Linked DNA regions of Homo sapiens. The protein of the gene in region 2 interacts with the protein of the main gene of each other region in a pairwise test. Each region holds a gene or a part of one and is shown on either strand. Other genes may lie near its edges.

What was found. Proteins that work in one complex are often made in the same cells at the same time.
Region 1: the proteins of MUTYH (region 2) and TDRD7 interact in a two-hybrid assay, tested with the Homo sapiens proteins (one large-scale study listed by BioGRID and IntAct).

The regions. Positions count from the first base shown.
Region 1 is NC_000009.12:97,490,949-97,494,847, forward strand, and holds part of TDRD7 (tudor domain-containing protein 7), read left to right. Parts: intron 1-3,899. UniProt on the Homo sapiens protein: Component of specific cytoplasmic RNA granules involved in post-transcriptional regulation of specific genes: probably acts by binding to specific mRNAs and regulating their translation.
Region 2 is NC_000001.11:45,333,471-45,338,604, reverse strand, and holds part of MUTYH (adenine DNA glycosylase), read left to right. Parts: exon of another isoform or gene 1-407; coding exon of another isoform or gene 408-419; intron 420-3,637; exon of another isoform or gene 3,638-3,778; intron 3,779-4,093; coding exon of another isoform or gene 4,094-4,099; coding exon 4,100-4,214; intron 4,215-4,971; exon of another isoform or gene 4,972-5,001; coding exon of another isoform or gene 5,002-5,043; coding exon 5,044-5,134. UniProt on the Homo sapiens protein: Involved in oxidative DNA damage repair. Initiates repair of A*oxoG to C*G by removing the inappropriately paired adenine base from the DNA backbone. Possesses both adenine and 2-OH-A DNA glycosylase activities.

The sequences.
Region 1 (3,899 bases), on a different chromosome or scaffold from region 2:
TCTGTCACCCACACTGGAGTGCAGTGGCACGATCTCAGCTCACTGCAACCTCCGCCTCCCAGGTTCAAGCAATTCTTCTGCCTCAGCCTCCTGAGTAGCTAGGACTACAGGCATGCACCACCACACCTGGCTAATTTTTGTATTTTTAGTAGAGACAGGCTTTTTCACCATGTTGGCCAGACTGGTCTCGAACTCCTGACTTCGTGATCCACCCACTTTGGTGATCCTCCCACCTTGGCCTCCAAAGTGCTGGGATTACAGGTGTGAGCCACCACACCCAGCCCACATTTCTGTTTTATTGTTTCTTAGAATTTCTGTGTTTCTACTTCCATTATCCATCTGTTCTTAAATTTTGTCTGCTTTTCCATTAACACTGGTACCGTATTAATCATAGTTGTTTTAAATTCCTGGTCTGATTATTTCCAGCATTCCTGCCATATTTGACTCTGATTCTGATGCTTGCTCAGTCTCTTCAAACTGTGTTTTTTTCCTTCCATATCACTTGTAGTTCTTTGTTGAAAGGTGGACATGATACATTGGGTAAAAGGAAATCTGGGTAAATAAGGCTTTTGTAATGTAGCAGCAGCAATGTGTGTCTGGGGTGTGAGGGATGTTATGTAGTCCTATGATTAGGTCTCAGTCTTTTGTTGAGCCTGTGCCCCTGGACTGGGAACTTCACCAGTGCTTCTTGGGGTCTTTCCCCCTAGCTTAGGTGGAGCAGGATGGCTAGAGGGGAGTGGAGTTGGGTATTTCCCTTCCCCCAGGAAGGTTAAGCTCTATAAAACCCTGTGAGGTCAGGCTCTAGTAAAATAGTTTCTTCTGAGGACAGAGCTTGTTAAGAAAAACAGAAAGCTCTGGTGTATTTCAAAATGTTCCTTTTCTCCTCCCCCAACTGGAAGCATGAGGAGATTTTTCCCTGATATTCACTGTGAGTACCAGGTAGTGCTTCTGGAGGTAAAACTCTCAAAAGTGTGGGAGACAGGGCCCTATAACTGGGTTCCCCTGGAGTTTTTAACTCTCAGACTTATTTACATGTACCCCTAGCAATTTGTCAGTTACAGTTTAGGTTTCCCTCCTCTGGCTTCCAGGCCTCTGCTCATTGGTTTCTGCTCTAGTACGCTTTGACTCTCAGTATCTTCCTGTCTGTCTCTCTGGTTTTGGGGACAGTGAATTGCCCTGTGACCTTCCTTCTCTGATGGACCTAGGAGTAGTTGTTGATTTTCTGTTTGTTCAGCTTTTTGTTTCTTATTAGGAGGCAGTAGCAACTTCTAAGCTCTTTACATGCCAGATCGGTAGGCAGAAGTTCTACCAACTGCTTTACTTCATTGAACTCTCCCCATGCTAGGAGGTTTAGGTACTGTTACTATAACTGTTATACACATCAGGGAATAGCAGCTTAGTGAAGTTAAATATCTTGTCCAAGATCCCACACCACAGCCTTAAACTCAGCACTCTGCCTCTTCAGTGTGTGCCTTTCTTCACTGTATACTTCCTTCTCCATGAAAAGTGTGGTTTTTGAAGTCAAAAGGCTGAGATTCAAGTCATTTAACTTCTAAACCTACCCCATGATTATTTATAAAATTACCAGTAAATTCCTATCCTGTCTATGTGACTGAACTAATATGTGGATCAGATGAAAAAGTGAATATGAAATTGCCTTTTGAACTAAAACTCATAGTCCAAATACATGAAAGTTTCTTTGTACACTTACATCTGAAACAGCATTGCTGTTGGGTCCCATCCATGTCCTGAGTTCCTTTTCTAGGCTCACCTCTGCCAAGCCTTCTTTCTTCCTTTTGACTTGCTCCTAAGTCACAAAATCTTCCTGGGTATCACATTATCCATTTTGAAGGGAGGACCTCCATTTTATAATTAATTGAAAACATATGAACTGGAACTATTAAACTATATGTGGCGGAGAGTATGTCTCTCTTGGGCCAACATAGGCATCCACTAGAGAGAAGCGAGGTAGACTAGAAGTTTCATGGAAGTCACTGGTTGTGACATGGCCATTGGAGTCATCACTTTGGTAGACTTGGTTCACACCTAGCCAAGCCCTTTGACATATTTAGGAATATCTCTAGATGTAAAGGAGCTCTGTGGAATCTAAGTGGAACCCATGGGAATGCCCTGAGTGTTTAAACTGGAATGCTTTAAGGATTCTCCAGGGACCTTGGGATTACCCCTTACTCGCTCACAAATGGGATCACTGGATGCCCACCCTTTCAAGGTTCCCAGTGTATTGGGGGAAATTTCAGCCAGATATCGGGTAAAATTCACCCCCGATATTTCATGTAGGTTCTTTTCTATTTTCCCTAAGTGTCGGCCGGTCTGAGAAATAAAGGGACAGAGTACAAAAGAGAGAAATTTTAAAGCTGGGTGTCCGGGGGAGACATCACATGTCCGCAAGTTCCGTGATGCCCCCTAAGCCGTAAAATCAGCAAGTTTCTATTAGTGATTTTCAAAAGGGGAGAGAGTGTACAAATAGGGTGTGGGTCGCAGAGATCACATGCTTCACAAGGTAATAAGATATCACAAGGCAAATGGAGGCAGGGCGAGATCACAGGACCACAGGACCGGGGCGAAATTAAAAGTGCTAATGAAGTTTCGGGCACACGTTGTCATTGATAACATCTTATCAGGAGACAGGGTTTGAGAGCAGACAACTGGTCTGACCAAAATTTATTAGGTGGGAATTTCCTCGTCCTAATAAGCCTGGGAGCACTACAGGAGACTGGGGCTTATTTCATCCCTACAGCAGTGACCATAAAAGACGGCCGCACCCGAAGCGGCCATTTCAGAGGCCTACCCTCAGGGACGCATTCTCTTTCTCAGGGATGTTCCTTGCTGAGAAAAAGAATTCAGCGATATTTCTCCCATTTGCTTTTGAAAGAAGAGAAATATGGCTCTGTTCCGCCCGGCTTACTGGCAGTCAGAGTTTAAGGTTATCTCTCTTGTTCCCTGAACATTGCTGTTATCCTGTTCTTTTTTCAAGGTGCCCAGATTTCATATTGTTCAAACACACATGCTCTACAAACAATTTGTGCAGTTAACGCAATCATCACAGGGTCCCTGAGGTGACATACATCCTCCTCATCTTACAAAGATGATGGGATTAAGAGATTAAAGTAAAGACAGGCATAGGAAATCACAAGGGTATTGATTGGGGAAGTGATAAGTGTCCATGAAATCTTCACAATTTATGTTCAGAGATTGCAGTAAAGACAGGAGTAAGAAATTATAAAAGTATTAATTTGGGGAACTAATAAATGTCCATGAAATTTTCACAATTTATGTTCTTCTGCCATGGCTTCAGCCGGTCCCTCCATTTGGGGTTCCTGACTTCCCACAACACCAGTGAGTTGTTGCTTCATTACATCTGGCCTTGACCTGGGCATTCTTTGCATCAGTGCACCATGGCCATGCACAAAATTTTCTGAATCCTAGAAGAAAGGGAGCCATACTGTGGAATCATCTTTTACCTTACCAATGGGTTACCTTTTTTCTTCTTAAATAACATGGCTCAAAGATTGTCAGGGCTGCTGCAGATAAAATGAAATTTCTAGGCTTCTCTTGTGGGAAATAAATAATCAAAGAATTTAGCCCATTTGCTATATAGATAGCAAGTCTTCCAAAATTATGTCTGAAATTTCCATATCTTAATTACTTTGGGGCATAATTTACAGTTTATGTAATCCAGTATATGTGGACTTAATTGTATTTCTTGAAATATGTATATATATATGTATATATATATATATATATTTTTTTTTTTTTCGAGAGGGTCTCACTTTGTCACCCAGGCTGGATGGAGTACAGTGATGCAGTCACGGCTCACTGCAGCCCTGACCTCCCAGGCTCAAGCGATCCTCCTCCCTTAGCCTCCTGAGTAGCTGGGA
Region 2 (5,134 bases):
ACAAGAGAATCAGTCCTTGCACTCAAGTCGTTTTTTACAGTCAAATTCAGGAAGTACACACTGATGGAAAGAATCAAAGTAATGTAAAATTACATTAGGTAAGAGCTACAAGGCAGAAATATGTGATAGGATAAGATGAGGGGACCTGATTTGGACATTTCAGTCAAGACTTGAAAAATGATAAGGTGTTAGGTAAAAGCATAAAAGAGTCCAAACAGAGGAAATGGATTGTGTGAGGCCCCAAGGTGGGCAGACACACTTGAGGTGTTTAAGCAACTAAATTCAGTCAACCTTGGCTAGAGCATAGTGAGGGGATGAGGCGGATGGTGCCCGGATCACTGGACCTGCAAGGCTGTAGTAAGAGGACTGCCTTCTAAGAGCAAGGGTGTGGCAGCCAAATCCCTCCAATGGCCTATAAGGTACTTTGTGACCCTCCTCTCCCCACCTCATCTGGTTTACTTCTCTGACCTCTTCTACCACTCAGTCCCATCTCATTCCATTCTAACCACATTGACCTACTTACTGTACCACAGACATACCAGGCACCCTCCTTGGGGCCTTTGCACTCACTTAGAATGCTTTGGGTCTACCTTGACCACAGTCTTTAAAATTGCAACATTAAACCCCACCTTGGCACTCTTTTTTTTCCCCTCTTGGTCTAATTTTTGCTTTTTATGCTAATATTTATCACCTAACATCTTATGGAATTTACTTATGTTCATTATTCCTTTTCTGTCCCCATTAGAATATAAGCTCCCTGAGGGCAGGAACTTTTGATGTTTTATTTACTGAAGTATGCCAAGTGCCTAAAACTGCTTGGCACATATTAGGGGGCTCTATAAATATTTGCTCAATCTTTTTTTTTCTTTAAGAGACAAGGTCTTGCTGAGCCCAGGGTGGAGTGCAGTGGCACAATCATAGCTCACTGCAGCCTCGACCTTCTGGGCTCAAGCTGTTCTTCACTTCAGCCTCCAGAGTAGCAGGATTACAGTGTTGAGCCACCACAACCAGCTTGCTCAAGAATTTAATGACCCATAGTAAAGGCCTACAGTATTTAAAAAAGAAAGAAAAAGGAAAAAAGGAAGGAAGGAAAGAGGGAGGGAGAAAAAAAGAGAAAAGAAAGAAAATAAAAGAATATAATGGGGTGTCACCAGGCGCCGTGGCTCATGCCTGTATCCCAGCACTTTGGGAGGCCGAGGCGGGTTGATTGCTTGAGCTCTGGAGGTGGAGACTAGCCTGGGCAACATGGTGAAACCCTGTCTCTAACAAAAATACAAAAATTAGCTGGATGTGGTGGTGGTGTGCGCCTGTGGTCCCAGCTGCTTGGAGTTGGGGTGGGGTATTGGGGTGGGAGGATTGCTTGAGCCGAGGAAGCAGAGGTTGCAGTGAGCCAAGATCACACCACTGCACTCCAGCCTGGGTGACAGAGTGAGACCCCATCCCAAAAAAAAAAAAAAGAATGGGAAACCATTGAAGGTTATAAGGAAGGAAGTGACGTGATCTGGAAAAGATTCCTTTGCTCTTTGGAGAATAGATTGTAGAATGAATGTGGAAGTAAGCAGGTTTGGTGAAGGAAGTTTGGCTATGAAGGGAAGGAGGGTGGGATTTGATTGTGTTACGAGCCAAGGGGAAAATCTTTCCCTTTGCCCTCTGAAGATCTGCTGAAAAATCAGCTCACAAAAGGCAGGTTAACTGGAGAAAAGGCATACAAATTTATTAACATGCACATTGGGAGAACCATAAAGTGATTACCCATCTCCCTACAGAGTTCGTGAGTTTATATACCATCTGGCAAAACAGATTATGGGAGGGGTGTCTCACGTGTGTCCATGTGAAGAGACCACCAAACAGGCTTTGTCTGAGCAACAAGGCTGTTTATTTCACCTGGGTGCAGACAGGCTGAGTCTGAAAAAAAGGAGTCAGCAAAGGGTGGTGGAATTATCATTAGTTCTTATAGGTTTTGGGATAGGCATTGGAGTTAAGAGCAATGTTTTGGGGGCAGGGGGTGGATCTCACAAAGTACATTCTCAAGGGTGGGGAGATTATAAAGAACCTTCTTAAGGGTGGGGGGGAGATTACCAAGTACATTGATCAGTTAGCGTGGGGCAGAAACAAATCACAGTGGTGGAATGTGATCAGTTAAGGCTATTTTCACTTCTTTTGTAGATCTTCAGTTGCTTCAGGCCATCTGGATGTATAAGTGCAGGTTACTGAGGATATGATGGCTTAGCTTGGGCTCAGAGGCCTGACAAGGGGTAGAAGAGAAATTCTGTTTTTCTGTTTTTGTAGAGACGGGGTCTTGCTATGTTGCAAGCCTAATCTCGAACTCCTGGGCTCAAGTAATCCTCCTGCCTTGGCCTCCCAAAGTGCTGGGATTACAGGCCTGAGCCAGCATGTCCAGCTCTATTTGTTTTTAAATAAACCGAACTTTGGCCAGAAGGAGATTCTGTTGAAGGGCAATAAAGGATTACTAGAGAGAATGGAATGGGGACAGAGGTTGACTTGTTAATAGTTCTCTTTGGAATTTGAGTGATCCTGAGGTACACAATACCTGTGAAAGGGTTTGTTCAGGTGTGGTTACATGTTAGTCTTATTGGGAGGGGAAGAAAAAACAAGTATTCTTTTTAGTGAGTTTGGACTTTAGGCAGATAAAGAGTTCCAGAGAACAACTTTATCCTGGCTTTGGGAGAGTCTGGGGTGGAAGGATCAGAGAGACCTTGCGGCTTCTTGAGTTCAGCATGTCAGAGGGCCATATTTTGGGGTATTGGTTTCTTTTCTTTTCTTTTTTTTTGAGACAGAGTCTTGCTCTGTCTTTGTTGCCCAGGCTGTGCAGTGGCATGATCTCAGCTCACTGCAAGCTCTGCCTCCTGGGTTCAAGCGAGCACGTCTGGCTAATTTTTTTGGATTTTTAGTAGAGATGGGGTTTCGCCATGTTGGCCAGGCTGGTCTCGAACTCCTGGCCTCAAGTGATCTGCCTGCCTTAGCCTCCCGCAGTGTTGGGATTACAGGCATGAGCCACCGTGCCTGGCCTGGGGTATTAGTTTCTGAGTTCCAACAGTTAGACGGGATTGGAGGAGCAGGACCCTGAAGAGGAGGAGGGTAAGACAGTGCAAATGGAGGTAGATTTGAAGTTGGTTTTTTTTTTTCTGAAGGAGGAGGCAAGCTCTTTTGATGAAAATGAGGTGGTAAAGTCAAAGGTTTGGGGGGAGAGTTTGATACAGAGGCTTAGCAGGGACTGCATTTTATCACAGTATAAGAATGCTGGTCGTGGATTTGAAAGAACAAGTCGCTTAATCTCCATAAACCTCAATTTCCTTATAACTAAGGTGGAGGTGATACTAGTACATACCTCATAGAGTCACCAGGAGATTGAGAGATCCGGTAAAGCTCTTCATGGGGTCTGACATAGAGTAGGCACTCACAAAATATCAACTAATTTTAGCTGTTAGAGAAAAGGCGGCCATTATAACAGTTAGGGAGCAGTGAAAATCAACCAGGCACATTTTCTCATTGTTGATGGTCAGCCACCTATGGTTTACTAGATTAGGAATAAAAATAGCTAATCTCTGTTCTCCCACTGATTTGCCATCTGTTCTCAGACAGATCTTTTGTCCCTCTGATCCTTGGTTTCTTCTAGGATAAAATGAAGGTTTTGGACTTAATGACTACTACAGGCTGTTTCAGTGTAACCATGCTACATCTCTAAGAGGCAGAGAAACCGCCTACCCCCATTCTCCCAGACACACCTAAACAACCCCTATCCACACACACAGTCACAGTAAGCATCAGAGATACACAAATGCTCCCAAACAGGAGGCTTTCATCCTTGACCCATCCCAGCCCTGGCCTCACAGTCTTTGCATGTCTCCAGGGCTGTAACGCCGGCCCCCTTGAGGCCACTTGCTCAGCTATACTAGTTGTATCTCAGTGCTGCAGCCAGCCAAGAGTAAACCCGTGAGCATCTTGAGAGTGCTTGAGAGAAGCTGGACCCCATGTGAATGGTGGATGAGAGGGAGATAGCTATCACCCTTGGAAGGCCTCAAAATTTGGCCTCATTGTGACTGACTGCTTTGGCTGGGTCTTTTTGTTTCAGGCCATCATGAGGAAGCCACGAGCAGCCGTGGGAAGTGGTCACAGGAAGCAGGCAGCCAGCCAGGAAGGGAGGCAGAAGCATGCTAAGAACAACAGTCAGGCCAAGCCTTCTGCCTGTGATGGTAAGGAACTAGGTTGTGGCCCAAGGCTCATTGGCCATGAAAGGCAGATTCAGGCTGGGAAGGGATTGTGATACGTATCAAGACATTAAGAGACTTACTAAGGGCCAGGTGCGGTGGCTCACACCTGTAATCCCAGCACTTTGGGAGGCCGAGGCAGGTGGATCCCTTGAGCCCAGGAGTTTGAGACCAGCTTGGGTAACATGGCGAAATCCCCTCTCTATGCTCGCGTGGTGGTGAGCGTCTGTAGTCCCAGCTACTCGGGAAGCTGAGGTGACAGGATCGCTTGAGCCTGGAAGGCAGAAGTTGCACTGAGTCAAGATAATGCAACTGCATTTCAGTCTGGGCAACAGAGCCAGACTCTTGTCTCAAAACAAAAGAGACTCACTGAGGGTGTAATTCTGACTGTATTGCTGTGTGACATTGGGACAATTGCTCTGAATGGCTGCTTTCTTACCAGTAAAATGGAGCAGTAGTTCAGCATTTCCTCCCTCATGTGGCTTTCATGGGACCAAATGAGTTTATGAGCCTGAAAGTGTTTTGTGAATAGGAAGGTCCTGCACCAGTATACATTCTAGCTGGCTAAAACTATTAGGTTTTCATTATGGCTCAGAGACAAGCCAGTAGTACCACCCTGAGAAAATTAAGGCCAGAAACTTAGCCACAGCTACACACAATTACATAACTCTGGTCTGACTCCAGCTCCAAAGCTTAAGGGGGTTAGTTGGGGGAAGCCCTAAGTGGGAGCATACTGCCACAGGCTGCTGTGTCCCAAGACCCTGATGCACAGCCTGTGCAGGGATGATTGCTGAGTGTCCTGGGGCCCCAGCAGGCCTGGCCAGGCAGCCGGAAGAGGTGGTATTGCAGGCCTCTGTCTCCTCATACCATCTATTCAGAGACGTAGCTGAAGTCACAGCCTTCCG